Linked DNA regions of Homo sapiens. The protein of the gene in region 1 interacts with the protein of each later gene in a pairwise test. Each region holds a gene or a part of one and is shown in the gene's direction. Other genes may lie near its edges.

What was found.
Region 2: the proteins of SYNJ2BP (region 1) and DLL4 interact in binary tests that used the Homo sapiens proteins (3 or more experiments, as listed by UniProt).
Region 3: the proteins of SYNJ2BP (region 1) and FAM210B interact in binary tests that used the Homo sapiens proteins (3 or more experiments, as listed by UniProt).
Region 4: the proteins of SYNJ2BP (region 1) and SLC7A8 interact in binary tests that used the Homo sapiens proteins (3 or more experiments, as listed by UniProt).

Annotation. Positions count from the first base shown.
Region 1 is NC_000014.9:70,372,078-70,379,099, reverse strand, and holds part of SYNJ2BP (synaptojanin-2-binding protein), read left to right. Parts: intron 1-3,328; coding exon 3,329-3,424; intron 3,425-5,968; coding exon 5,969-6,109; 3' UTR 6,110-7,022. Other genes in the region: SYNJ2BP-COX16 protein, read left to right, coding at 3,329-3,424, 5,969-6,067. UniProt on the Homo sapiens protein: Regulates endocytosis of activin type 2 receptor kinases through the Ral/RALBP1-dependent pathway and may be involved in suppression of activin-induced signal transduction.
Region 2 is NC_000015.10:40,924,964-40,932,339, forward strand, and holds the start of DLL4 (delta-like protein 4 precursor), read left to right. Parts: upstream 1-4,376; 5' UTR 4,377-4,705; coding exon 4,706-4,771; intron 4,772-4,883; coding exon 4,884-5,153; intron 5,154-5,661; coding exon 5,662-5,719; intron 5,720-6,539; coding exon 6,540-6,803; intron 6,804-7,207; coding exon 7,208-7,268; intron 7,269-7,353; coding exon 7,354-7,376. UniProt on the Homo sapiens protein: Involved in the Notch signaling pathway as Notch ligand. Activates NOTCH1 and NOTCH4. Involved in angiogenesis; negatively regulates endothelial cell proliferation and migration and angiogenic sprouting. Essential for retinal progenitor proliferation.
Region 3 is NC_000020.11:56,354,344-56,361,992, forward strand, and holds the start of FAM210B (protein FAM210B, mitochondrial), read left to right. Parts: upstream 1-4,630; 5' UTR 4,631-4,662; coding exon 4,663-4,848; intron 4,849-7,649. UniProt on the Homo sapiens protein: Plays a role in erythroid differentiation. Involved in cell proliferation and tumor cell growth suppression. Involved in the metabolic reprogramming of cancer cells in a PDK4-dependent manner.
Region 4 is NC_000014.9:23,124,781-23,131,668, reverse strand, and holds the end of SLC7A8 (large neutral amino acids transporter small subunit 2), read left to right. Parts: intron 1-111; coding exon 112-208; intron 209-1,869; coding exon 1,870-2,019; intron 2,020-3,304; exon of another isoform or gene 3,305-3,472; coding exon 3,473-3,650; intron 3,651-4,325; coding exon 4,326-4,492; 3' UTR 4,493-6,374; downstream 6,375-6,888. UniProt on the Homo sapiens protein: Associates with SLC3A2 to form a functional heterodimeric complex that translocates small and large neutral amino acids with broad specificity and a stoichiometry of 1:1.

The DNA of each region.
Region 1 (7,022 bases):
TGCCAAGGTTAAGGACATGCCTGGGAGACAGGTATGTTCCTTTCTCCAAAGATGATTTTGAGGGCTTTAATATTTAAAGTAGGCTGAAGAGCAAAGAGGGAAGGTATGGTAATCCACATGTTGCCAGAGGAAAGGAGCAGGCAAGGGAATAGTCAATTACGTATTTTCTTTTGCTTAGTAAGTTGGGACTTTACATAAGATAAGGTGAACATAGAGTAATTACCTGTGGAGATATTTAACCTGTTATCTGTAGCTATCTGCTTGGGAACAAAAGGAAAAGCAGTTTATTGCATGACTCAGCTTGCAGCTTAATTTTTTCTCTTGACATGGTGGATTGGGGTCCCAAGTTTTTGTTTTGTTTTTAGTGTCAACAGCCTAAAATAGGCAATAGGAAAGAAAATACTGTATGAGAGATGTCATAGTGTTAGACTGTGGAGTTTGGCAATCTATTGTATATGAAAGTTGACAGCAGAGAGAGTTTAAAACTATTATTAAAATTTTAGCCTGGGCTGGGGCACAATGTCTCACACCTATAATCCCAGCACTTTCGGAGGCTGAGGCAGGAGAATCACTTGATCCCAGGAGTTCAAGTCTCCAGTCAGCCATGATCACACCACTGTGACAGCCTGAGGGACAGAGCAAGACTCTGTCTCAAAAAAAAAAAAAAAAAAAAAAGTTTGAAGGAATGATAGTGGCAATAAGAAGCAAGGTATGTATTCTGATTTTTGTGGGAAGTAATAAAGAGGTTTTGGATATGTTGAATTAGGGTCTAGCAGAGTATACAGGTGTAGGCATCCAGCAAGAAACTGGCAAATCCAGAAGTACAAGTAGGGATACAAATTTGGGAGTTATCTTACAGATTATGGTTGAAACTGTTAAAGCTCACAGTGGGAGAGAAAGAAAGAAGATAGAGGATTGATACTGAAAAACCTTGACTCACCTTAAGGAGAAAGAAAGGGAAGAGGAAATCCGGAAAGGAATAATTTAAGAACAAAGAATGCTAAGTGTTCATATGCCAAGATAGGAGAAAATTACAAAAGGGAGGAGGTGGTCTGAAGACAAAAACGGCTATAGGATTTGGTGATTGGAAGTTATTGGTGACCTTTAGAAAAACATGTTCTTCCCTTCTACCTCATACATTGTGAGATTACAGGGGAATAGAGAATGAATGCTGAAGAAATAGAGGTAGTGCATGCAAACAGTTCTTAGAACAAATTTAGCAGTCAAAGAAAGAGGAAAGAAGATGGGAGGAGAGTGATAATGCGTTCCAAGAAATAGTTGTATTGTTTTCTTTATAGAGGTGTATAATTTTAGTTGAGAGAAGGAGCAGAGAAAGATAATAGTTAAGTAATCAAGAAGACAGAGTGTCTGTGAGTTTTGTAAGGAGGTTAGAAGAAGTATGATCAAGATCATCAGTGGATGGTTTCACCTTGAAAAGGAAATAGATCTAATTCAGAGACTAGGGGAAAGGAGTAGTGAGAAGATATAAAGAAACTTTGAGGGAGAAGGAAAGAAAATGTAGAAAGCATTTATCAGAAGTCCTCAGTGTTCTCACAAAAGATAAAGGAATCAGCTAGGGAGAGAGGTAGAAATGGGGTTGGAGACGGTGGTGGAAAAAGGTCTGGAACAGCTATCACTGCGTGTTTATTAAGGAGTTCAGCAAATGAGTAGAAGCGGTTTTAAGGATGAGCTGGAGTCAGCTAGTATGGGTCTATGGTGGAGAATGAGAATATACCTTTCTCCCAGAATATTCAACTTAATGATGGCAAGAAAAGGATTGCAGAATATGGCCCAGGACTGGAAAGATGGCAGAAGATCTTGGGGACAAAGGATTCTAATGATTTACCAAGTGCTTTGTTGAAATTACAACAGGAACTCCTAGATGGGCAAGGATGCAAGTAAAGTCTAAAAAGGTTACAAGGAGGAAATTCAGTAGATGAATAGAAAGTATGAAAAGAGTGGAAATTGTTGTCAGGTTTTTAAGAGTTTGAGATATTGGAGCTGAAGCATGTCTAATATTGAAGTCTAAGTTTACGTCAATTGGTGACTGAAGTGGAATGGAGTTGGAAACTATTGGTTTACAAAGGTAGACTGTCTATAGGGCAGAAGTGTTGGTAGATTCATTCACCAACTGTATTGGCAAGAGAGAGAGTAGAGGGAAGATTATGAGTGCCTTGGAGAAGGAAGATTGCGACAAGGAAAATGAGAGAGTTGAGTAAGGGAGTGACTTGAGCATTAGCTGAGCAGAGGATAGTTGGTGAGTCAAGATGGAAGAATAACAGTGCAGAAGGAACAGTGAAATGCAAGGACACTTTGATCTTTCTTTCATTATTTACAAATCCTAGCCCTAGCTCCAGCACAAATCTCACTGAGCTTCAAGTTTCTTTATCTGTGGAAACGAGATAAAAATAATGTCTACCTCATAGGGTTATCATGAGAATTAAAAGAGATAATGTATGTAAAGTACAGAACCTATCAAAAGAAATATATCAGATGTTCTTATTGCTGCTACTGTTAACGATGACATTGACAAGTATAAAAGATATGTAATCTTGCACTAAGTGGGCTGTGCTGTGTCACTGAATACAGCATAGGATAGATAGATTATTACTTGTGGCCGATGTCACTCCTAACTGCAAAAAGTATTAATACAAGTATTCCTTCACATCTCTCACCTCTAAGTGGTAGGAGTGACCTACACTGAAATTTTTTTAAGGATTTATATCATCACAGGAATATGGTTTTTACTAAGTTTTGATTAAAAAATGACTAATTTACTAATTTGGATATAATGGATAGGAGTATCCGTGGAATCACAGGAAGTTGTTCACTATGAAAAGCCCAATAGAATGGGCTAGTATAGATTTATATGACATCAAAATAAATTGGTGGAGAGTTTCATAGAGTTATATTTCTACAGTTGCAGCTGGCAATGCCAGGGCTTAGGAATATAAAGGTTAGGGTGGTAACCTGGAAGACCATGCTATCTTTAAGGAAGCAGGTTAACACTCATGGAAGAAATGCTAATACGGTAACAGATTCCCAAGTGTCAAAACGAGACAGGCATAGAAGCTAAGAGGAAGGAGAGACCACTTTTTATTTTACATAGGTTCTCTTCAGATGGCCTGTGGAACTTCAGTTCTAGGAAAACATAGTTTTGAAAATGAAAAAAGTTCTAAGTTCTGAGCTCTAAGTAACTTTGCCCATACTCCTAGTCCTTGCAATTTGCTCTGAAGGAGTTTGTTATTTAAAGTTTGGCCATTTGAAAATAAATTGTTGACTTCTAATAGCCTTCTTCCTTTCTTACTACTCTTTGGTGTTTTGACAGGTAAATGGCCAAGACCTAAAGAACCTGCTGCACCAGGATGCTGTAGACCTCTTTCGTAATGCAGGCTATGCTGTGTCTCTGAGAGTGCAGCACAGGGTAGGTATCACTTTGAGCCAGAAACCTGGCACCAGGCTTTTGCACTGTACTTCTGAATAAGCCCAATGTGTGTAATCTTCAGTGTTGCTTTTTGTTTTACCCTCACTCCCCTGAAGAGTTTCTCAGGCAAAGGGAGGGGTCCATTGGTACTTCTGCTTATCATTGAAGGACATTCAGGCCAGGCACGGTGGCTCACACCTGTAATCCCAACACTTTGGGAGGCCAAGGTGGGCGGATCACTTCAGGCCAGGAGTTCGAGACCAGCCTGGCCAACATAGCAAAACCTCATCTCTACTAAAAATACAAAAAATTCAGGCACGGTGGTGCACACCTGTAGTCTCAGCTACTTGGGATGCTAAGGTGGGAGGATTGCTTGAGCCCAGGAGGTAGAGGTTGCAGTGAGCCAAGATCATACCACTATACTCCAGCCTGGGCAAGAGAGTGAGACCCTGTCTCAAAAAAAAAAAAAAGAAAAAAAGAGAAAAAAAAGAGAAATTCACAACAGTATGGCTTATAACCAAGGTCCTTGCTTCAAGATAATATGCCTTAAAGATAAAGCTTGACAACCAAATTAAAACAGATGATTAAAGAAAAGCCAGGTGTGGTGACTCACATCTGTACTCTTAGCACTTTGGGAGGCCAAGGTGGTATGATTGCTTGAGCCCGGGAGTTCAAGACCAGCCTGGGCAACATAGAGAGACCTCATCTCTTAAAAAAATAATAATAAAAATAAATAAAAAATTTTAAGAGTGACATGGACCAATGGAAAATAAATAAATTAATTAATTAAAAAGATGGTAAAAAAACGTAGCCAATTTTACTTTTTGGTAGGGAAGGAACCATATGTCTACCGCTGAAAACTTATTTATAAAACCATTGGATAAAACACTACAAAGATGGTGGGTTTTCTGGTACCCACTATATGCTTTTCCCTGTCACTGCCATGAACCCTTCATTTATCAACTTGGTGACCCTCTTAACCAAATCTTTAGTGTTCATAGGAGAACTCCAGGAAAAAGGAAATGGAATTCAGAATTCAGTCAAGGCAGCACCTATCCCTGCATCTGTTTCTTATTTCCAAGTGTTTTATAATTTGGATGATGATGTAAAGGGAAGCCTGGGTAGATATAATTCCTCCTATAGCATTGAGAATTTCTGAGCATATTCACAAAACAGGTTCCATGTGCCTTTAAATTAAATCAATTTGCTACTTCTTAAATAGGTGCACTCTTCCTCACTCAGTGGCTAAGGATTTAGAAGCTTAAGAACATTTAGAGGAGTTCCTAAAAAAGTAGAGAAGGCAGAACGTGAAAGATACCTGAGAAAACAACCAGTTGCAAGCAGAATCTGGGTGTAATGGATTAGAAAACAGGTTAATAAGAGATAATATTGGTCATCAGTTGCTTCTGCCTTGGCTCTTCTCTTTCTAAAGCATGGGAGCATTTGTGCAGTAGATAAAAACAAGTAAATATAGGGACACACTTCAATATGATTACAATTCTTTTGGAAGGTATGTGAGAAGTTATTTCCAGTGTTCACTTTTAAGGAAACATCCATAAATAATTCCTAATAAAAAAGACCCTTATGTTCAGGCAATTGGCCTAGCCCTAAAAACCATGCCTTCTTATTGAGCATGTCCTTTCAGGACAGCTCATCAGCAAATGAATGAAAAACATAGAGGTGGAATAGAGGGTATAATGGTATTTCATGCAGTCTTGCCTTTCAGATTGAAGTGTCAGTTTTATGAGTTGTAATGAGGCAGTTTAACTGAAATACGATGATGCCATAATTATTGCAAGTTAGCCACTAAAAGTTGATATTAAGAAGAGCTACCCTGAAAACCATCACTAAAATGAAGACCATCCAGCCTCAAAAGGAAACACTTAGCCAATAGAAAATTATAAGCACTAGGATATAATTTCTTTTTGCTTTTTTACATCTGTTCCATATAGATTCACCTTCATCTCTCTCTAGTATTAGAAATGAGCAGATGAAGGGCAAAACCCCATCTTTGGAGGGAGTTGGGTGCCTTCTGGGATCTGGAAAGCATTTTTCAAGTAATGGCATTGGACGTATGTTGGTATTGCACCTATGTTGACATTGCCCACATCTGCTCTTACTACATTTTGATGACTGATTATCTAAGTAAACATTTCCAGAAAGATCCCCCTTCTTCCTCACCAAGTAATATCCAAGTTCCCTATAAGATCATAGGTTTTATCTCATGTCTTCATTTTCCTGATACGATACACAAATAGCAAGGTAGAGGCAGTACAGAAACAGAAATTACCTGACTTGCCCTCACGGGTCCCTTTAGGTCAGCAAGGTTAAATGCCTCCCCATTAGACCTATTTTCTTTCCAAAGATCCTGTGACACTGATGCATCAGCTCAGGACAAAGAGAGGACTCCTTCTGCTAGGTATTGCTGGGGGTTACAGTTTTGGGTGGTCTAGAGTCTACAAACCCAGGTGATGTATCAACCTGGGCGTTTCAGTTGCAAACACACATTAGTCACTAGAGTTAACATTTTTCTTTCCCTTCCAGTTACAGGTGCAGAATGGACCTATAGGACATCGAGGTGAAGGGGACCCAAGTGGTATTCCCATATTTATGGTGCTGGTGCCAGTGTTTGCCCTCACCATGGTAGCAGCCTGGGCTTTCATGAGATACCGGCAACAACTTTGAAAAACTTGCTCTCTTTCAATACTCCCAATGAAGATACATTTCACTCACCCTCCACCCCTGCTATTCTGCCATGTCTTTCCCTCTCTCTGCATAGCCAGATTTGAAGTGACTGATACCCACCCCAAACCTTGCTGTTCACAGTCTCCAATTCTTCATATTCTAATGGGAAAGTAAAGGTATTGTTTGAAGGAAAACTGAAGAAAAGACTTGGCTTAGAACAAATGAGGAGTTATATATTTTACTAGGACTTTTGATAGAAATTCAGCTACAACCCAAAGAGAGAAAGATTGAGTCTTCCTGTCACCATAGGCAATACCTTTTTTCTTAGCTGGCATGCCATAAAGGCCAGCTATGTGATATTAGAGGAAGAAAGGATTTTTCTTTTTAATGATCTTCCTTGGGAAATTATTGTGGCCTTTATTTAATTTCTAACTACGTACCTGGGTGCCTATATCGACAAAGAGTGAGAAGAGCATTTTTACTTTTTTAAAAAAGCAAATACATATATACACATACGTATGCAAATATTATAGTATAATAGTGATCCCTATGGAGAATTAAAGGTGAGAAAGCTACTTTGTGGTGTCTAGGTTTCTGATAAAAGGGATGATCTTAACTGAAGAATTTAAAGAGATACTTAAACAGAGCAAATGTAGTAGGAACAAGGGAGTGAGCCTTATAAGAGGACGTTCAGTCTCATTTATTAAAATAATAACTGAGACTGGGAGAGGTGGCTCATGCCTGTAAATCCCAGCACTTTGGTAGCCTGAAGTGGGAGATTGCTTGAGTCCAGGAGACCAGCCTGGGCAACATAGCAAAACCTCATCTCTATTTAAAAAAAAAATAGAAAAAAATGTAATAACTGAAGCAACTAATTAAAAATCTTAGAAGAACAATATTTATTCTTATAACA
Region 2 (7,376 bases), on another chromosome or scaffold:
ATTACAGGCAAACACCACCATGCCTGGCTACTTTTTGTATTTTTTTTTGGTAGAGACAGGGTTTCACCATGTTGGCCAGGCTGGTCTCGAACTCCTGACCTCAAGTGATCTGCCCTCCTCAGCCTCCCAAAATGCTGGGCTTATAGGCATGAGCCACCACACCGGCCATCCCTATTATTATTATCCCATTGCACAGATGAGAAAACTGAGTGTAGAGCTAGAGTTAGGTTACAAGCCCAAGACCACATGGTTAGGAAGTGCCAAGAAGCAGGTCCATGTCAGGCTTATTCACCAGACTCACCTGGAGGGTGGGGAGAGACTCGTTCCTCCTGCCTCCTCCCCATCTCTGCTCAGTCCCCCTGACCAAGATTCTTCAGAGTTCGGTGTCCCTCAGCGCCCATGCCCTACCCCTTCCTTCTCACCGGGGCCCTTCTTATCATCAGTCACTGCATCCTGTTCCTCCCTTGAAGCCCCCAGATGAGTTCTCAAGGCCACCACCAAGTCATCACCTTCCTCACTCCTCTCTCCAGTCTCAGGCCTGTTCTATGGGGAACCCACTCTGTCCCGCGGGAAAAACCCTCAGCAGGCGGTTCCTTGTGGGGGCTCCAGAGAGAGGTGAAGGAGGCCACGCGGGGCACCGCCTGCTGAGCGGGAATCCCGTCCCTAACCGCTGGCGCCCCTCGAGGGGAGGGGCGAGGGCGGAGGTGGTTCTGCTGCGGCATCTGTCCCAGGCGGGCGGGAAGCTGCTGCATTAAATTGTAAAATCGATTTATTGACCGGCAGGTGCGAGCAGCGGCAGATGGAGAGTAGCCCTGCCGGGGCGCATCTGCGGGGAGCGGCGGCATCGATCCCGGCCCCCCTCTGAAACCCGTCGGTCCTGGGCCTTTCTCGCCAGCTCACTCCCAATTGTAGGGCCAAGGTCCTTGAAACTGCGGCGCCTGAATGGCTAGGGTAGCTCGACTCCCTCCCCCAACACCCTCCTGGCCTCAGGCCCCGGGCTGCGCCCCCACGGCTGCCAGGCTCTGCCAGTCCCACTGCCCCAGTTGGCACGCGGCGGGCCGGGCTGACGCGTGGCAGCGCCCTGCGGCAGATGAGGCACGCGCCGGCCTCATTTCAATGTGAATGGATCGAATGGAGCAGCCATGTGGCAGCAACAGTTTGCAAATCTCCACGCCTTCTGTGCAGCTCCCCGGCCGCCGCTCCCTGCACGTGGCCCCTTCTCCGCAGCGACCGCAGCGGCGCCCCTCAAGGCTTAAGCGCCCCGCCCAAGCCAGGCCTGCTTCCCCGCCCCTGGTCTGCCCAGCAGGCACGGTGGCCCGGCCCCCACCGCGCTCCTACCCGGGTGCAGTGTGCCCCGCGAAGAGCGCCGTCCCCTGAGAGGGGGTTGGGGAGAGGAGAGGCAAAACCGCGCTGAAGGTCTCGGAGCTGCGCCTGCGGCCGTGGGGAGGGCACAGAGGCTACGCTGCGGGGGAGGAGTCCCGAGGCTCTACGAGGCTCCTGTTGCGCCCCAATAACCTGGGGTCAGCTTGGGGACACCGCTGGAAGGCGACCTTAGCGCTTCCCGGTCCTCAGTGCCGGTTCTTATGGCTGGAGGACTATGCGCAATGGCCAAGCGTAGGGGGACAGCAGAAGCAGAAGGCCTCTAGGGGCAGAGGCGGTGGGCCTTTCATGAAGCCAGGCCTCGACCCTGCGCCCGCTTCCGACGTTGGGGAGTGTTGAGGGTGCGGGTCGAATTGAGGAACCCTGGGCCTGCGGAGGGTCAGTGGTCTTTCGGACTCTGGGTCTATCTGTGCACCCTTTCCATGCTGTTGTGGAGGGTCTGCGTCAGGGGCGGGGGCAGCCGACTTCGATGGGGGTCCAGCCCCACGGTGATCGGTGGCCTCCCATCCCAGGACCACGCGTGTAGCGTTCTTCCGCCCGCAAGTCCGAAAGTCCCGAGTGGGAGAAGAAGGAAGGCGCAGCCCCAGTTTTGGGCTGACAGAAACACTTGCGGCCTTCGCACTGGGCTCCCCACCCGCAGCATGACCCTCTCCTGCTCAGCAAATGTGGGCAAAGCTCGACCGCAGCGTGTGGGAGCGCTCGTAGGTACCCAGGGCCAAGGGTGGCAGTGTCCTAGCCCGGGAATGAGCTTCTGGGACAGCGCCTCCGCAAATAGGTGTTTCATGAATGTCTTTTGATGCTGAGAATTTAACCCTTTCCTCTTCTGGTCAGAGCCTTTCTAGATCTCTGGGATCTCCTGGGTGCTGCCTCTCTGAAGATAATAATCCCAACTTTTGTTTGGTCCTTGATAATTTGCAAAGTACATTTGGGCACATTAGTCTGGGCGTGTATGAGGGTAGAGAGTGTTCCAGATTTTCCAGTATTGGGAGAGATGCCTTGTGTGGGACTAGATGTCTCCCTTGAGGGTCAGGTAAGCAGGACCAGCGCCAGAAAAGGAGGATGTTTTTATTAACTCCTGGGCCAGGATTTGGAGTTGAGAGAGGACAGGGCTAGGTAGGGCTGGATGCCAGCTTGGAGGGGAGCAAGGGGCACCCGCTGGCATCTTAGAGAGGCAAGTCCAGGGATCCATAGGGTATAGGCGGAGAGAAGATCTGGGAGCCCACTTGCCAGGATCGCCGGGAGGCACGCCCCGGACTCCCCCTCCCTCGGGCCTGGGACTCCGCCTGCCCATAACCTACATTAACTCCCGAGCGCAGCCTGGGCCCATCTGCCGCCCCGCCCCACCTCGGTTCCCCACGCCAACCCGCTCGCGCCAGATGGTGGCTGGGAGGGGTGGCCGTGCGTGGGGGACCCCGGAGCCCGTCTCCTCACCTCGCCCCTCCCCCAACCCACGCTCCCAACCTCTTGTTTCTCATCCTTCCCCCCCCCACCACACCCGTCCCCCAGTCCTCCACCACCACCACCCAACTCAAAAAAAAAAATCAGACCATGCTCGGCATTGGCAGCTGTTGGGCTTCTCGCCGCTCCCCCACCCTTACCGCCTCCCCCGGGTTCGCGCCGCGTCCCGGCTCCCCCCCCGCGCTGATCTTACCGCCCGACTACAGCCATCACCTCGCGGGCGGGCTGACAGCTGAAGCCACAGGGCCCCCGCTGCCCTCGGCGTCGCAAAGAGAGAGCTCCCCGGCACCCCTGAGACTGGGAGAAGCCGGCCCTCCCCGGTCTGCGGTCTCCGGGGATCACGCCGGGTTCCGAGAAAGCAGCTGCGCTGCTGCCGCTTGGAGGAGTGGGGCCACCCAGGGGACCCTCTCGGGCGAGACTTGGGAAGCCGCCTGAAACTCAAACAGCTCCGCAAGCCTCCAGTTCCACCCCACATCCCGCCTTATGAGGCGAGGACCCGGGCCGACCCGGCCTCAGTCCCTCACCTTGATTCTCCAGTGGCCTGAGCCAACTCTGGCGTCAGGAGAGTTCCTCCTTGCCCCAGCTGAGCGACAGGGCGCGGCCGGGGGCTTGGGGCTGCTGGGGTGGGGGGAGGCAGTGGGCGCAGGAACTGAAGCTGGACTCAGGTGAGGGGACGCGCTGGAGGCGGGGCCAGAACCTCATTACCATACAGCTGAGGACGCGCCCCCCTCCTACCTCCGGGACCACGCCCCGCCCTCCCCCACCTCAGGGACCGCGCGTCTGGGTCTCTGGCACGCGCCAAGCCCTGGCAGGGGGCAGAAGGGAGAAGGCACGCGCTGGGCACGCCCCCCCTTAGCTAGAGAGGGAGACGCCCAACAGGTGCACAGAGAGGGCCCCGAGCCTTAGACCCTTAGCCCCTAGCCTTGCTCAGAGTGGCCACAGAGAGGTTAACGCTTCTGCTGGCTTCCCTGCTGCGCTGGGGACGCGTGGTGGGTGGGCACTCATAGGTTGGGGGCCGTTGAGACAAGGGCTCCAGAAGCTCCAGGAAGGAAAAGGAGATCGGATTTCCCTAGCGCTGGTTTTTGCATTCCGGGCTTAAGTTCTTTTTACCTGCTTTGGAACACTAGGTAACTAGCGCCTGCTGCGGATGCACAGCCTACAGGGACTGCCTAGTGTCTCCGCCCCCAAGACCATCCCCGAACCACCCACTCACCTCCTGCCCCATTACCGGGCAACCCCTCTATCCTCCGGCGGCCAGGGTCTCAGCCCTTAACCCCGCCATCACGGAGGACTGGTCACCTCGGCACGCGCAGAGCTGGGGGACCTAGAGGTTGGGAGCGGCACGGAGGGGCGGGGACCTGCGCCCGACTGGCTGACGGGGAGGGGGGAGCGGCGGGGGCGGAGGCCCCCTCCGGGCGGCGCTGGGACTGTAGCAGCTAGAGGCCGGGAGGGGAGGGGAGAATGACCATGAGTCTGAGTGACAGGCGGCGAGGAGAGGAGCCAATATATATAAGGAAGGCCCCCAGCGCGCAGGTTTCAGTAGCGGCGCTGCGCGCAGGCCGGGAACACGAGGCCAAGAGCCGCAGCCCCAGCCGCCTTGGTGCAGCGTACACCGGCACTAGCCCGCTTGCAGCCCCAGGATTAGACAGAAGACGCGTCCTCGGCGCGGTCGCCGCCCAGCCGTAGTCACCTGGATTACCTACAGCGGCAGCTGCAGCGGAGCCAGCGAGAAGGCCAAAGGGGAGCAGCGTCCCGAGAGGAGCGCCTCTTTTCAGGGACCCCGCCGGCTGGCGGACGCGCGGGAAAGCGGCGTCGCGAACAGAGCCAGATTGAGGGCCCGCGGGTGGAGAGAGCGACGCCCGAGGGGATGGCGGCAGCGTCCCGGAGCGCCTCTGGCTGGGCGCTACTGCTGCTGGTGGCACTTTGGCAGCAGGTAACACGTCCCGCGCCCTCTCCGTCCCCTCTGCCGCGCTCTGGGCCTCAGCCCCGGGCACCAGCTGAGCTGACCGGTCCCCTCCCTCCTTCCCTCGGTCCCTGTGCAATAGCGCGCGGCCGGCTCCGGCGTCTTCCAGCTGCAGCTGCAGGAGTTCATCAACGAGCGCGGCGTACTGGCCAGTGGGCGGCCTTGCGAGCCCGGCTGCCGGACTTTCTTCCGCGTCTGCCTTAAGCACTTCCAGGCGGTCGTCTCGCCCGGACCCTGCACCTTCGGGACCGTCTCCACGCCGGTATTGGGCACCAACTCCTTCGCTGTCCGGGACGACAGTAGCGGCGGGGGGCGCAACCCTCTCCAACTGCCCTTCAATTTCACCTGGCCGGTGAGCACAGCCTGGGCGCACTGGGAGGTCGCAGAAGCCGAGAGAGGAGGCGCCCTGGGACCAAAGCCCCCTCCCCAGATTTCCTTGTACACACACCCCCACCCCCAAAAAGCCCAGGATGCATTCTTTCCTGGCTCTTCCCGACTCTCTCCTGAGACTGATCCCAGAAAAGGCTCTCACCAGTCTCCGTCTTCCCAGTTTATGTCCTCCCGTCCCCAGCTCTTGGGACACGATTTTCATTACCTACCACTCTGGGGCGGTACCCTACCACCCCCTCCTCCAGTGGCTCTCCCTTACACTCTCCCGTCTCTCAACCCTCCCTCTACCGGGGGTTCTCCTCTCGCCTTCCCTGCTCAAGCGCTACACTGTGCACAGCCCCGTTATGTTGACCCGGGCGCAGTAACTGAATCCTGCAATTAGATTAATTAAACAGGCTGCCGCAAGGCACCCCCACCTCTCCCCGCTTGCTCATCTCGCCATCTCTCCGTCCCCCCACCCCCTTTCCCAGGGTACCTTCTCGCTCATCATCGAAGCTTGGCACGCGCCAGGAGACGACCTGCGGCCAGGTGAGTAGCTCGCTCCGCCACCACAGGGGGGCGACACGGCGCAGCGCCGAAAGAGTTAATCTGTTCTAGGCGGGGGAAGTGCGGGCTTGGGGGTGGGAGGCAGGACGCTTAGCTTGGCCTGGAGCTGCGCCCCGCGCTGGACGCTCGGATTCCGCTCGCTGCCTGGACTCAGAGCACAATTGCGTTTCCTGCGGGTTATTTTTGGCGTGGGAACGCGGGGAGTACGGCGGTGAGAAAGGCTGAAGCTGCCAGCGCCGCTGACGGGCCCCTTCCTGTATTTTACACCTTTCGCGAATTCCGCTCCTTTGGAAAGGGAATAATGGCTTTGGGATGTTGTTCTGACACAGAGGAAAAGGATATTTCAGCAGCACAACAATTCTCACTTTGAAAAGGAAAAAAGAAAACCATTACCCACCTCTGGAGGCAGAACCCCTGAATGGGCACCAAAGGACCCCCTGCTCCCAGGGTCCTCTCTAGCCTGGGGAGCTTTTCTTTCTTTTTCTCTTTTTTCCATTTTGACCTCTTTTCCTCTTTCCCCTCCCTATCTGCCTCCAAGACCCTGGGATATCTTAACATCCTTCTATTGTCCCCTTTTTGAATACTATCAGGCCCCCTGCACATGCACACACGTAGGGCAGCTACGTAGCGGGGCTTTGGGTCCCTCTGGCCTGTTCTTGCTGGCAGGCGGGGGTCATCTGGATAACTGGGCTGATTGGTTGGCTGATCACCATCATCACAGCCAAGAAGGACATTGGCCAGCCGTCACTGGCACCCTTGGGGACTGGCGACCCTTCCCTGACCCGACCCTCTGCCCCCTCAGAGGCCTTGCCACCAGATGCACTCATCAGCAAGATCGCCATCCAGGGCTCCCTAGCTGTGGGTCAGAACTGGTTATTGGATGAGCAAACCAGCACCCTCACAAGGCTGCGCTACTCTTACCGGGTCATCTGCAGTGACAACTACTATGGAGACAACTGCTCCCGCCTGTGCAAGAAGCGCAATGACCACTTCGGCCACTATGTGTGCCAGCCAGATGGCAACTTGTCCTGCCTGCCCGGTTGGACTGGGGAATATTGCCAACAGCGTAAGCAGTCAAGCTCCCACCTGTGTGGAAGGGGAGGGTCCCCTGAGGAAACACAGTGGAGCTTCTTGGTCACAGCTTGCCTCCCTTGAAGAGTGGGTCTGGGCCTCCTACTAGCTGGGCCTCAGGGATGCTGAGGGTGGGCTTGACCTCAGACCTCCTGTCTCTTCCCAGTGCTCCTCCCATCATGCCAAAGCCCACAAGAACCCCATCATGACATTCCATCCAGTTTGGCTTCTCCTTCCCTGTGCCATTATTTCACTTTAAGACACTCGGGGCTCCTCTGGGAGGCCAGGAGTAGGAAGAGGGCCCAGGAGAGCTAGGGGATCCCCAGGGCCAGCAGGTGAGAATGGGGCTTAAGAGTCCTTGGTATCCCAGCCTCACCCAGCTCTGTGTTCTTCCCTTAGCTATCTGTCTTTCGGGCTGTCATGAACAGAATGGCTACTGCAGCAAGCCAGCAGAGTGCCTGTGAGTAGGGGACAGGAAGTGGTGAGTGGGAGCCCTCCCTTGGCCAAGGCCTCTCACCTCACTCTGCCTCTCTCTTGTTCCCCAGCTGCCGCCCAGGCTGGCAGGGCC
Region 3 (7,649 bases), on another chromosome or scaffold:
CACAGAAACTGCGAATGTGTCATGTTACAAGGCAAAGGAATGAAGGTTGCAGATGGAACCCTGTGACCTTCAAAAAGTTCCTTTTGGCCTGGCACAGTGGCTTACTCCTGTAATTCCAACACTTTAGGAAGTCAAGTCAGAAGGATCGCTTGAGGCTAAGAGTTCAAGACCAGCCTGGGCAACATAGCACCCATCTCTATAAAAACTAAAAAAATTAGCAGGATATGGTGGCATGCGCCTGTAATTCCAGCTATTCAGGAGGCTGAGGCAGGAGGATTGCTTGAGCCTTGGTGGTTGAGGTTGCAGTGAGCCATGATCATGCCACTGCACTCTAGCCTGGACAACAAAGAAAGACTCTGTCTCAGAAAAAAAAAAAATAGAAGGACACTGTTAAATAGGCAGTAAAAATCACCATGACAACTCAAGGGAGAGAGATTACGAAAAGAAGAAAACAGCTTCATATTTTAATACCTTGAAAGGCACTTCTTGCCTGCTTTTTTAATTATTATTTTTTATTTTACTATTTTATTTTATTTTGAGACTGGGTCTCACTGTCGCCCAGGCTGGAGTGCAGGGGTGTGATCATAGTTCACTGCAATCTCTGCCTCCTGGGCTCAAGCAATCCTTCCACTTCAGCCTCCGGAGTAGCTGTCACTATAGGCGCTGTCACCCCTGAGACAGCAAGAACAACCTTTCCTCTTCCTTTTCCTCCTCAGCCAGCTCAATGCAAAGATGACAAGGATGAAGACCTTTTTTTTTTTTCTTAAGATGGAGTTTCACTCTTGTTGCCCAGGCTGGAGTGCAGTGGCACGATCTCGGCTCACCACAACCTCCGCCTCTTGGGTTCAAGGGGCCTCAACCTCCTCCTCAACCTCCTGCCTCAACCTCCTGAGTAGCTGGGATTACAGGCATGTACCACCACACCCGGCTAATTTTTTGTATTTTTAGTAGAGACTGAGATTCACCATGTTGGCCAGGCGGGCCTCGAACTTCTGACCTCAGGTGATCAGCCTGCCTTGGCCTTCCAAAGTGCTGAGATTACAGGCGTGAGCCACCGCGCCTGGCCTTATATGGCTGCCTTTAATGTCAGATTCTCAAGTTAAGATCATAAAAGTCAGTCCTACATTTCTCTGCTAAAGACACCATTTAGAGTCGGGGTAAATAGACACTCTTGGCCAGGCGCAGTGGCTCATGCCTGTAAGTCCAGCACTTTGGGAGGCCGAGGCGGGCGGATCACCTGAGGCCAGGAGTTTGAGACCAGCCTGGCCAACATGGTGAAACCCCGTCTCTACTAAAAATACAAAAATTAGCCAGGCGTGGTGGTGCACTCCTGAGGTCCCAGCTACTCAGGAGGCTGAGGCAGGAGGATCACTTGAGCTTGGGAGACAGAGGCTGCAGTGAGCTGAGATCACACCACTGCACTCCAGCCTGGGTGACAGAGCAAGATTCCATCTCAAAACAAACAAACAAACAAAAAACTCTCATTTGCTGTACTCTGCAACCTTTATGGAGTGAAATTTTGCCATTTATTCAAATTTACAAATACACATATCTTCTCACTAAGCAATTTCACTTTGAGGAATTTATTACACAGGCATACTTAAACACGGCAAGTGACAGAAATACCCGCTGGTTCATCACAGCATGGTTTATGATCACAAGGACTGGAAAATACCCTAAATACCCTAATGGTCCACCCACAAGGGATTGGTTAAAGCATTACAGCACCCTGGAATACACTGGAATGCTAAGCAGATTTTAAGAATAAGGAAGATTTTTGTGTACATATTCAGAAAACTCTAAAATATAATGGAAGCAAAAAAAGTCCAGGTGAAGAACACTGTGTATACTATGCCCCACTTGGGTAAAAACAGCAATGAAAACCGTTCATAGGAATTTGCCTGCACACATGTAAAATTTTCTAGAAGGATATGCACAAGCAACGGGTAACAGTGTTTGTCTCTAGGGAGAAAAAAATGAGGAGAACTGGTCACTGGGATAGGAAGGAAGCTTGTCATTGTGTAGACTTTTTGTACCTTTAAAAATCTGAACCGTGAGAACACATTATCTATTCATGAAAATGAAGAAATTAAAATAAATATAGTTCATGCATGAGCTGCTGCTCTAGAGAGACAAAGAGAGCTGACACAATAAGAAAAAAACAAAACTGTCACAAGTTCAGGCAGGCAGCAGCTCCAATACATTTTGTTAAAAGCAAAAGTTTCTTCACTTTTAGAAGAAGAAAAAAAGAACCTAAAGTCTATAATTACAGTATTATATTTACTGTCAAATTTAAAGGGAAAAACAAAATTACCTTTTTCTCTTCTCTAATAAGCATATAGCATGAATCACAAACTCAACTGCCCATGAAGCCTGGGCAGGAAACTTAAATGAATGAAGAAGGCCTGGTGACAAGAAAATCACGGGCGCTTTGGGAGGCCGAGGCAGGAGGATCACGAGGTCAGGAGATCGAGACCATCCTGGCTAACATAGTGAAACCCCGTCTCTACTAAAAATACAAAAAATTAGCCAGGCGTGGTGGCGGGCGCCTGTAGTCCCAGCTACTTGGGAGGCTGAGGCAGGAGAATGGCATGAACCCGGGAGGCTGAGGTTGCAGTGAGCTGAGACCGCGCCACTGCACTCCAGCCTGGGCGACAAAGCGAGACTCCATCTCCAAAAAAAAAAAAAAAAGAAAGAAAATCATGGGAACCATGAGGAAGTCGAGATCAGATGCCATCTGGAGGTGGCACTGTCACCGGGTGACAGAGGGGCTTCAGGCAAGGCATCTCTACAACATCCCAGCTAACGTGTGTGCCCTCTCTGTGCACCAGGCACTGAGTGAAGCCCTTTCCAAGAACTGTGTCAAAGAATTATCTCAACAATCTCATGGGGGAAACTATTATTATCTTCATTTTACACATGAAAAGACCAAGGCTCAGAGAAGTTGAGTCACTACTTCCAAATCACACAGCTGGACTTCTAGGGCCAACCTGACAGACAATCTGCACCCTTAAGCACTCTTCCCCAGCTTCTTGCAGACACTTAAATGGAAGGATTCCCATCCAGGGGCACTTTAGGACCTCCCTCCAACAGACCCTGTTACTTTCACAGCTATAACTCCATCTTATGTAATAAATATTTTTTAATGCATATGTGTTTAATATCATTTCTGTGCCTGTGTAAGAGCTTGGTTGAGTTGAATTGCAGTTGACTAATAGAATATTACATCTTTTGTAAAATATATTTCTTTTTCTTTTTCTAGAGAGACAGGGTCTCGCTCTGTCACCCAGGCTGGAGTGCAGTAGCACCATCGTGGCTCCCTGAAACCTGGACCTCCTGAGCTCAAGCAATTCTGCGTCAGCCTCCCGAGTAGTTGGGACTACAGGTGCATGCCACCACACCAGGCTAATTTATTTTTATTTTTGTAGTGACAGGGTTTCGCTATGTTGCTCAGGCTGGTCTTGAACTCCTGAGCTCAAGTAATCCTCCCACCTCAGCCTCCCAACGTGCTTGGATTATAGGCATGAGCCATTCCACCCAGCCAGAACATCTTTATTGAAGTATAATTTACACAGCATAAAATTCATCCATGTTAAGTGTACAGTCCCACGAGTTTTAGTTACACAGCTGTCACCATCCCTACAATCTGGGTTTAGGATCCTTCCCTCACCCCAAGACGTTCCTCCCACTCCTTGGCAGTCAATCTCATTTCCCACTCCCAGCCCTAGGCCACCACGGATCTGTTTTAGGTCTCTGTGATTTTGCCTATTCTGGGCACTTCATGTAGCTGGAATCCTCCAGTGTGTGACTTTTGTGCCTAGATTTTTTCAATTGGCATAAGAGCTTTGAGATTCATTTATGTTGTGCATGTATCAGTAGTCTGTTCCCTTTAATTGTTGCATTGCGTCCCATTGAAGACTTGTGCCACAGTACGTCCCAGTTTATGGGCATTCCTAATTGTTGACTAATATTTATAAGATCTCTACAAACATTGGTGTCTTCACATTTTAGTCTTTGAGTGTCGAGCCTTTGTTTCTCTTGAGAAGCTACCGAGGAGTGGAGTTGCTGGGTTGTATGGTTAGTGTATGTCTAACTTTTCAAGAAACTGCCACACCATCTTTCGCTTTACATTCACGCCAACAATCTATGAGGGTCAGAGGACTTTTTATTAAACATGTACTAATATCAATTCTCATATTTATTTTCTTCTTTGGAGCTAACACGTAAACATATCTATAATTTTTTTTCAGATTTCACCCATTTCTGCAGGGAGAAAAGCTCATAAGCCACGGCCCTACGCCCACCTTTGTGCCCGCAGAATAAGGAAACCCGCCAACTACACACCACAGTTAGAAAGCCCAAGACCCTGAAAAGACCTGCACCCACCCCCAAAGGGGCGGGGCTGGTGGGCGGAGAGGAGGCGGGGCGCGCTCCTTCAGCCCCGCCCACCAGCCCTGGACTCCGGCTCCCGAGGAGCGGAGCTAGCGGGTGAGCCAAGGGGATGTGCACAGGCCTCCTCAGTCCCGCCCAGCGCGCGCGCGCGGCGGCGAAGCCGGCGGGCGGGGCCGGGGAGGGCCCTCGCCGGGTCAGCTCCGCCCACCCTCCCCGGCCTCCGCCCGCCTCCCGGGTCAGCGGCGCGGGTGCTGCGCCTAGCTGCGCACCATGGCCGGGTTGCTGGCGTTGCTGGGTCCGGCAGGCAGGGTGGGCGCCCGGGTCCGGCCTCGCGCCACCTGGCTCCTGGGCGCCACCGCCCCCTGCGCCCCGCCGCCCCTGGCCCTGGCCCTGCTCCCGCCCAGGCTAGACGCCCGGCTGCTCCGCACGGCGCGCGGGGACTGCCGCGGCCACCAGGTAAGCACCCCACCCCGACCCTGATCCCGGGCGGTGTCCAGGTCCCCAGACGTCCGCAGGGCCGCGCCGGGGTCCGGCCGCCTCCGCCAAGGACGCCTTTGCACTTGTAGCTGCCCGGGACCGAGCTCTTCCAGGGTCCCCGAAACCCCAAATCCCTGCAAGCCAAGGAAGCGATCCTCCTAGTTGACAGCCAGAGAAACTGAGGCTCGGGAAGGTGTGGCGCTCTGCCCAAGGTCGCGCAGTCTTCGGCCGAGCCCCGGGTCTGCAGAGCCTCAGCCAGGCTGGGGCGCAGCCGACTGACTTGGTCTGAACTTCCACACGTTGCCTGCGGAGTTGTTGTCCAGGCCTTCTGGCTGGGTCTCGCTGTGTTTTGAACACCTCCCGACGCTCGCTGCTCCTCCCTTTTCTTCTGAGTGGAAGAGCAGGCGTCCTCAGGGAAGCCGCGGGCAAGAAACCCACAGTGCTGTTTGTTATGTTTCATTTCCGTCACTTTCCATTGGTGCTAAGTGAAAACTGGTTTTCCTTCAGAGCAGTCATACCAGCTTTCCTTTCAAGAAATCTATCACTTTCTTCCAAGTGAGTCTTTTTAAATAAAAATAGTAGTAAATGAAGTCTGGCGGTCCAGGAATGGCAAGCCCAGACACGCGGAGCCGGCGTCCAGCCCGGAGCGCATCCGGCCTGGCAGTCTGGAGCCTCTTTGTTTGCCTGGGTGCAGACAGGGCCCCTCCATTCATCGCCCGGTGACCTCAGACCGAGTCCTGAAGGCTTTTGAGCTTGTTTTCTGACCTTTAGAGGGCCAAAAATAGCACCTTCCCAGCAAGAGTTTGGGAGACAACTCCATGAGCTGGTGCAGGCCTCAGCGGAGTGCCGCCGGCCCAGCGAACATCTCCTGACCGTTTCCTAGCTTTTCAGTAAGGAGCGGATGGGGATTGGACCCAGGCTTTCATCATGCCTCCTGCCCAGATCAACTTCCTTCCTTGCCTTCTCCAGTCCGACAGGTGGCACACAGGTCTTGGGGATCCTCTCCAGAGTGGCACCTTCTGCACACACCGTGCCGCCTCCTGATGATTCTTCAGGGCCCAGCCCAGCTGTTCCTTCCTCCGGGAAGCCCTCTCTAACGACCTGTGAGGTCTCGGATGCCTCCACTGGGCCTGCTTCCACCCCATGGCTGTGGGTCTTCTCTGCACTCATCTGGAATGGCCTCTTGTCCTGCCTGTCAGCCACATTGACCTTGTCCCCAGCTCAGGCCCTGGCACTGGAGCGGTGTGTGTGTATACAGTGGCAAAGAGTTGGCCTCAGACTCCCTGGATTCCTCTCTCTACTCACTTGTTGTTGACTTTGATCAAATTCCCTTCTCTCTATCTCAGGCCCCTCATCTGTAAAATGGGACGTTAATAATTCAGACTTCATAGAATATGAATGTAAAATGAGATATGTTCATACCTGGCATCTGGTGTGTCCTAAATTAAGGTTAGAAATGACTATAATTGCAGTAAATATATACAGTCACAAGGCCCCAGGGCCCCGTGAGCTGTCCTTGTTTCTTCTGCACCGTGGTAAAATCGGCAGAAACCCAAGTGGGATCAGAACCTCAAAGGAGATTAGGACAAAAGATAACTCATCTGCCTGAGAAAACGCGTCCCCAGCAGGGCCTGGGAGCAGTGCAGGGAGGGTCTGGGCTTGGCCAGAGCCCAGAACCTCCCCTGTCGTCTGTTCTGGCCGCCCACCCTCGTCGGGAGGTAGGAGTGTGCTGCCCAGCTGGGCTCTCCAAATTTGCCAGGTGTTTAATTAAGAGCCAAAGAGGCCCACCCACGCTGCCTTGGCAGGGGGTCTCTGTAAGAGGGGTAGGGAAAGCCACAGAAGAGACCTGCCTTTTTGTCTTAACATGATTCCATGTCCTGTAAACCGCCTAGCAGCCCCGCCTGCCTGTGCCACTTATTCCTTCCAGGGACGTAGGGGGAGTTCAGGCAGATGACTTGCTCTCCCAGAGCCCCAGTGTCCTTTTGTCTCCGTCAGTTCTGGTTCCAGTGGCACCTTTTCAGGGAGACCTTCCCTGATGGCCTTATTTAACATTCCTCCTACTCCCTGTCTCCCGCCCCATTGGTGTTTCTCTATGGCACTTGTCACAGGTAGCAGCCCTGGTATTTTACTCTTCTGTTTATTGTCCCTGCCTTCCCATAAGACCATAAGCTCATCGAGGGTGGGGTTTTGTCAGTTTTTTCCATTGCTCTGTCCCCTACACTGAGAACAGTGCCTGGCACAGAGGAGACACTCATGAATACACGAGGAGTAACATAGCATGGTTGTTCAGAGCAAAGGCCCTGGACCCAGACTCAGCGAGTTTGGATCCCAGCTCTGACAGTAATCCCTGTGTGATCCTTGGTAAATTACTCAACCTCTCTGGGCTTCTCAGATCCTCTTCTGTTAAGTGGGGTTGACAGTAGTCAAGGTTGTTGTGAGGATTATATGCATTAATATTTCCTTTTTTTAAAATTAGAGATGAGGCCGGGCGCGGTGGCTCACGCCTGTAATCCCAGCACTTTGGGAGGCCAAGGTGGGTGGATCACCTGACGTCAGAAGCTCGAGACCAGCCTGGCTAACATAATGAAGCCCCGTCTCTACTAAAAATACAAATATTAGCCGGGCATAGTGGCACGTGCCTGTAGTCCCAGCTTCTCGGGAGGCTGAGGCAGGAGAATCGCTTGAACCCGGGAGGCGGAGGTTGCAGTGAGCCAAGGTCGTATCACTCCACTCCAGCCTGGACGACAGAGCACGAATCTGTCTCAAAAATATAAAATAAT
Region 4 (6,888 bases), about 47 Mb from region 1:
CTGGTTGGAGTGGGGATGCCCCTGTGTGGGCAGAAGGTAGGCAAGGATGAAGGAGCTGGGGCTTGGTGGTCCCTGGGTTATCCCAGGCTGACCTGCTTTTCTCCCTGACAGGCTGTTCTTCGCTGGAGCCCGAGAGGGCCACCTTCCCAGTGTGTTGGCCATGATCCACGTGAAGCGCTGCACCCCAATCCCAGCCCTGCTCTTCACAGTAAGGGCCCTTCCTGCTGTAACTCTCCACACACCTCCCTCTCTTTGTGCCTAGTCTAAGCTGGGAGTTCATGCTTTTCACACACACCCCTGTTACCCTTGCAGTCTGCTGCTAGGTCTCACTGGATCTTAGAGGATCTGGCAAATGATACCCATCATCTTTGTTAATATCAAGAGATATAGCAAGGAAAGATCCTGAGTCTTGAAATACCTAAGGCTCTCAGGCTGACTTATTTCCGTTCTCCCATCCTTTTGGGTCAGACTGAACTGACTGTCTCAGGATTCTACAGCCTCAAAAAAAATATATCTCCCTTGGCTCTCCTCGCACCTGTTACCACAGGGTTGCAGCACTGGCCTCTGCTCCTGGCTGGTTGGTCCCTGCAAACACCCACTTCCCCCATCAAGCTTCAGGGCAGCCTGCCAGTCTCTTGGGAAACATCATTGAAATGAAGTTAGTGTTAACAGTACACCAAATACGAAAAATAATAGAGGAAGACTGATAAACTGGAAACTGTGCAAAGGAAACTTGGGACAGGAAAGAGATGGGAGTAAAATATCCCCAGAGTAGAATCATTTTGAGAGAGCTATAGGAAGGAACAAAGACTTGTCCCCATTGAGTCTTTTGAGTTATTTTTATTTTCCTTCTGGATCCTGAATAAAACACTAAAAATGACTTTGGTCCACTGGTGAAGCAGTTAGCAATCAGAATAACAGAGCTCTTGGGAGCCAAGAGCATTTTACAGCATTGCTGTACAATTTCAGAATGTTCAGATGCAGGATGAAGGTCACCTTGACTGGTTGGTTGTCGAAGGTGGCTGGAGAAGACAGTACTCCCAGTGGGCCACACACATTTTTTTGTTTTGTTTTGTTTTGTTTTTTCCAGTTAGAGCTATTGGTGCAGTAGTGTGACTAAAAGGCAGATGTAGCAAGAACCATTAAAATCTTCTCGATTATTTTAACCATCGGATCTCACAAGAGAACAGAACCTTTTGTTGACCTTCACAAGTTATCAGAGGGGAGGAGCATGGTTCCAAGAGAGCCACAGAGATGATTTTGAAGTTGGAAAGTAGACTCTGTCAAGAAAACCTCATAGGGATGTTATGAGGGTTAAGTGAGTTAATCTTTGTCAAATGCTAAACATAGAGACCTGGCACACAGTAAGTGCTATGTAACCAGTTTTGAAATTAATAAAGAAAAGGAAGGAAGAAAAATAGATGACTCAGCCAGGAGAAAAGGATGAGGGCAGGAATACAGCCTTAATCTGTTGTTAACAATCTTCCCTAAGGGATTTTAAAAAAATGAATTTAGCTTGAGCTATAACCAACAGAGGCATACAAATGAGACCGGGGCTGACACAGAGCCAGGTAATACCAGTGTGGCCAGTCTAGCTGCTTATGTCCAGTATCCATTCTAATTGGCTAGTGCCCGTGCCATACGAGTGGTTAAATATTTTGATCATCACCCCTGTAATAAGAAAGGATTTCCTAGCAATAAAGATGTTGTAACATATTGGGTTACTAGGGGAGGTTCTAAAGTCTCCATTTCGAGACATCCATTATACGATGGCATCATCTGCCTGGAGGCTGGGGGACAGCCCCTAATCTGTAATACCAGTCTCTGAATATCTTTCGGATCACTGATGAGCTCCTCCCACTTTCCCAGTGCATCTCCACCCTGCTGATGCTGGTCACCAGCGACATGTACACACTCATCAACTATGTGGGCTTCATCAACTACCTCTTCTATGGGGTCACGGTTGCTGGACAGATAGTCCTTCGCTGGAAGAAGCCTGATATCCCCCGCCCCATCAAGGTGAGAGAAACTCCCTTTGGGGTCCCCTCCCCTTCCTCTATGGTTCTAGCTGCAGTTCAGATTTTTAAATCACCTCTGTTCTTAGCTGCTGACCACACGTCATCATCTCTGATGGTAGCAGACCCTTTGGAAAGCAAGGGCCATTTGTGAATGGGACCACTATTTCCATTCTCCACTGGGGATGAGATCGGAGCAGACTGCAGCTGGGGAATAAGTCAGATCAAATGTGACTTTCATCATGACATTCCTTTGTTTCCTACCAGTCTAAGCCTTAAACTCCAGCTGACTTTTCAAGGTTCTCTTATCTCCCCAACACTTCCTCCTTGTCCCTCCAGATAGCTGGGTTCACTATGTGCTATGTCTCCATCCCAGAATGACTTCCTCCTCCCATCTGCCCATCTACATTTTAACCATTTTCCAAATGCGCCTCAAGTACCTCCTCTTTCTTGAAGTCTTCCAGTCTACTGCAACCTCCCATGATCCTCCCTTTATAAACTCCCACAGTCCTACACATATAGGGTGCTCAGTGAACCTAATATTGCTACAAGATATAACTCTGTGATAGGAATTAAAGGGATTGCTCAGAACAGGACATGCTAGAGCATTATGAGTTCTCCTACGAATTAGAAGAATAGAGTGTACTCCAGAGCTATTTGAACAATCCTATTCTAGAAACAGTGACTAGATGCTTCTAGAAGATCCTTCCAGCTGAAAAATCAAAGGCTCTCCAAATCTCTCAGTTCCTCACTGGCATTTCCACCGCCATTTTCTACTCTCACACTTAGAAAATCTGCTAGAGGGAAGAGGAGGTAGAATAACCCCATGTCCCCACCACACACATCCCTTCTGAGCGAGGAAGACAAGGAAGAGAAAGGCAGCCGAATCAGGACTGCCCCTGGAGCCCTGAAGAGGATACTCTCAGGAACTCCCCACATGTGGCCCATAAGGAGCTGACATTTGCCATATTGTGCCCACATAAGGGCCCTGCACAGAAGTGGGCAAGGACCAGGGAGCCTGAGTGACTCGAATCGTCTCCTGCCTGCACCTTGTGCATTGCCACACCTCCCCTCCACCCTAGGACCTCAGCAGACACACCCATGTGCCAGCAAGCTTCTCCATCCCTGTGGGCTTCTCTGGCTGCCACGGGCACATGGCATGCATGATGAGGCCTTGTCTAACCACACCCAAGAGCGAGGACATGGGCAAGGAGGATCGTTTCCTCCCTAACTCCTCCCCATCCTCTTCCTGTCTGACCGACCATGTTCATCAACATTTGTTTATATAGCCCCTGCCCTACCAGGGGTGAGTGTGGGACCACAGAGCCGAGGGAAGCCCAGCCTTTGCCCTTGAGGATGTGTCTCTGTGGGTGAAGAAGAGAGAGAATGCCCCAGTCCCTAGTCCTGGGGGCCACGTGGCCTACACAGTTCATACGCCTCATGCCTCTGCTCCACAGATCAACCTGCTGTTCCCCATCATCTACTTGCTGTTCTGGGCCTTCCTGCTGGTCTTCAGCCTGTGGTCAGAGCCGGTGGTGTGTGGCATTGGCCTGGCCATCATGCTGACAGGAGTGCCTGTCTATTTCCTGGGTGTTTACTGGCAACACAAGCCCAAGTGTTTCAGTGACTTCATTGGTGAGTTGTTGGAGGCTCTGGCTGGCTTCAGGGCCTCCTGGGCTGGAATGCAGTGGTCAGTGATGGGGTTGGGGAGCCACCAGGGCCAGGAGATCTAGGCTCACCTTCTCCTCAGTCCACAGAGCCCTGGAAGAGTCCAGAGCAGGGGAAGCAGATGCCTTTTCCCAGAGACCTCTGAGGGTAGAGAACAGCTGGCATTTCCACACAGACCTTAGACCCGCAAGAATAGGCAACCTGGGCTGGGCACAGTGGCTCACGCCTGTAATCCCAGCACTTTGGGAGGCTGAGACAGAGGATCACTTGAGCCCAGGAGGTTGAGACCAGCCTGGTCGACATAGCAAGACTCCATCTCTGTTATTAAAAATTTTAAAATAAAATAGGCAACCTGTCAGCCATTCTGTGAGAGCTGCCCGAGGCTGGGTGGAGACCAGAGGAGACCCTGGACTTAGGGGTCAGTGGGCACAGGGAAGGTGGGAAGGCTGGGGCCTTCATAAGCAAAGAGTAGCCGGCGGGAGATGCAGGAGGCAGACCAGGTGGCGAGGATTCTCTTCAACGCACTGACTGCTCTGAAGAGGCAGAACCTGGAGCAGGAGAGCCAGGAAGGGCCGGGGCCACTTGGCCAGGTTGGTGGGATACTCAGCATTGGCCTGGTTTCTGTGTGATCTCTTCCTACAGAGCTGCTAACCCTGGTGAGCCAGAAGATGTGTGTGGTCGTGTACCCCGAGGTGGAGCGGGGCTCAGGGACAGAGGAGGCTAATGAGGACATGGAGGAGCAGCAGCAGCCCATGTACCAACCCACTCCCACGAAGGACAAGGACGTGGCGGGGCAGCCCCAGCCCTGAGGACCACCATTCCCTGGCTACTCTCTCCTTCCTCCCCCTTTTATCCTACCTCCCTGCCTTGGTCCTGCCAACACATGCGAGTACACACACACCCCTCTCTCTGCTTTTGTCAGGCAGTGGTAGGACTTTGGTGTGGGTGGTGAGAAATTGTAAACAAAAACTGACATTCATACCCAAAGAACCAGCCTCTCACCCCAGGGTCCATGTCCCAGGCCCCACTCCAGTGCTGCCCACACTCCCAGCTGCTGGAGGAGAGGGGAGATGCCAAGGTGCCCTGCAGGACCTCCCTCCGGGCCACACCCTCAGCTGCCTCTTCAGGAACCGGAGCTCATTACTGCCTTCCCTCCCAGGGAGGCCCCTTCAGAGAGGAGAGGCCACAGGAGCTGCATTGTGGGGGGACAGGCTCAAGCAATTCTGTCCCCATCAAGGGGTCAGCTGGAGAGACCCAAGACCCTATCTGTTCACCAGGGACCCAAAATCCAAGGGGATGCTTCCCTCTGCCCTCTTTCCTGCCCCTCCCCATCATACCTGCACCCACCCCAGCCAGGGCTCCCTGTCCAGAATTCGGTTCTCCTCAGGACGCCAACTCCCAGAGCTAAGGACCAAGGAGAAGAACAGCCTCTCCACCCCCAAGCCAGGCGGTTGAGGAACATATTGAGAAAGGTTCAGATTGCAGAAACCCAGCCCTGCCCCTGCCTCCTGCATCCAGCCCCCAACATGGTGCCAAAGCTTCCAGAAGCCAAAAAGCTTCTGATTTTTAAGGTAGTGGGCATCTCTCTCCTAATGACGAAGCTGCTCAGCAACTCCACCTGCCCGCCGCAGGAAGGAGCAGTCCCCTGCTATCCCTGCAGCCACTCCCAGCACACCCGCACACAGCCAGCACCACCGCCCCCACCGTGCACTTCTCCTCTCTGGGCCTTGGCTTGGGACCAGGTACGAAGGATCCCCAAGCCCTTCAGGCCTGAGATCAGAGCCAGATCAGCCTTAAGTCACCTCCCATCCAAGAACTTGGCCTAAAAATACTCCCCTATTTCTAACCCTCAGGACGGATCTGATATTAAATGCCTTCCCTGGGAGGAAGGGTGCTTTCCCCCTCCCTAGAGGTGCCCATTCCATACCCTGGGAGACTGAGGAGAGCATTGGCTGAAGCCCAGTTCCTTTCCCATCCATCCCCAACTCCAATAATCCCCCACTCCTCGCAGGTCTCAGTGTCATGCTGTCTTGGGGCAGGGTGAAAGGGTAGTGGCAGCAGGGCGCCCACTCTGGAGATCCTCAAAAAAGGCCCTCCTCTGTGGCTGGCAGCCTCTGACCTTTCCCTGGGCTTCAAAGGAAGGCTATGGAGTTTGCTGTGGGCCCTGCAACCTTCCCAGCCACTCCTGCTGCACTAAGGACTTAGGATCCTTTTATCACAAATCGGGATTCTCTCCCCCACCCCGAATTCTGTCTGCTTAAACTGGAATACACAGGAGCCCTTCCTGGCCTGGATGGTGTCTCCCAGCTTCCCCGCCCAGCTTGCCCACCCCATAGTTGGTGAGATGCCAAGTTTGGTCTGAGTTGTGACCCCTTCAGAGTAGATGCCCGGCAGGCTGGGGTTGGCCCCTGGAGGGTCAGGGGACCATCTTCTTATTCCCTCTTTTCTCATTCCTCCAACTTCCTCCCCTCCTTCAATTATTTTTTTGTAAAGTTGATGCCTTACTTTTTGGATAAATATTTTTGAAGCTGGTATTTCTATTTCTTTTGGATTTTTTTTAATGTAAGGTTGTTTTGGGGGATGGAGTTAGAACCTTAATGATAATTTCTTTCGTTTGGTGTAGGTTTTAGAGATTTGTTTTGTGGAGAGGTTTTTTTCTTTTGATGTAATAAAATTTAAAATGGAAATGAAGTTGGTGGTGTTGGTAATTAAGTAACCTTTTGAGACAGAGTCACCAGGCATTTCCTCTTAGGAGATCTTGCCAGGTTCCTTCCAGAATGACATTCCTAAAAGCTCTCGCTCTCTGTAACTTCTAGCTATCCTAGGGACTCAATGCCAGTGCATTCAAACCACTGACTCTCATTCTGAACCAAAAACATCAAAAGACAAAAGTACAACGAATTTACAGATCTCAATTGTTTACTGTAATTCTGGAATCAGGCAACACTTCATTCCATAAAATAGAATACATATTCCAATGAGTTGAGCAGAAGAGGTTGGCTTTACAGACAGGGAGGGCTGAAGAAAGCTGGTTAGTCACTTTTCGAAGTTGCTTTTCTTGGCCGGGCACAGCGGCTCACTCCCGTAATCCCAGCACTTCGGGAGGCCGAGGAGGGAGGATCTCTTGAGCCCAGGAGTTTGAGACCAGCCTGGGCAACATAGCAAGACCTCGTCTCTACAAAAGATAAAATTAGCTGGGCATGGT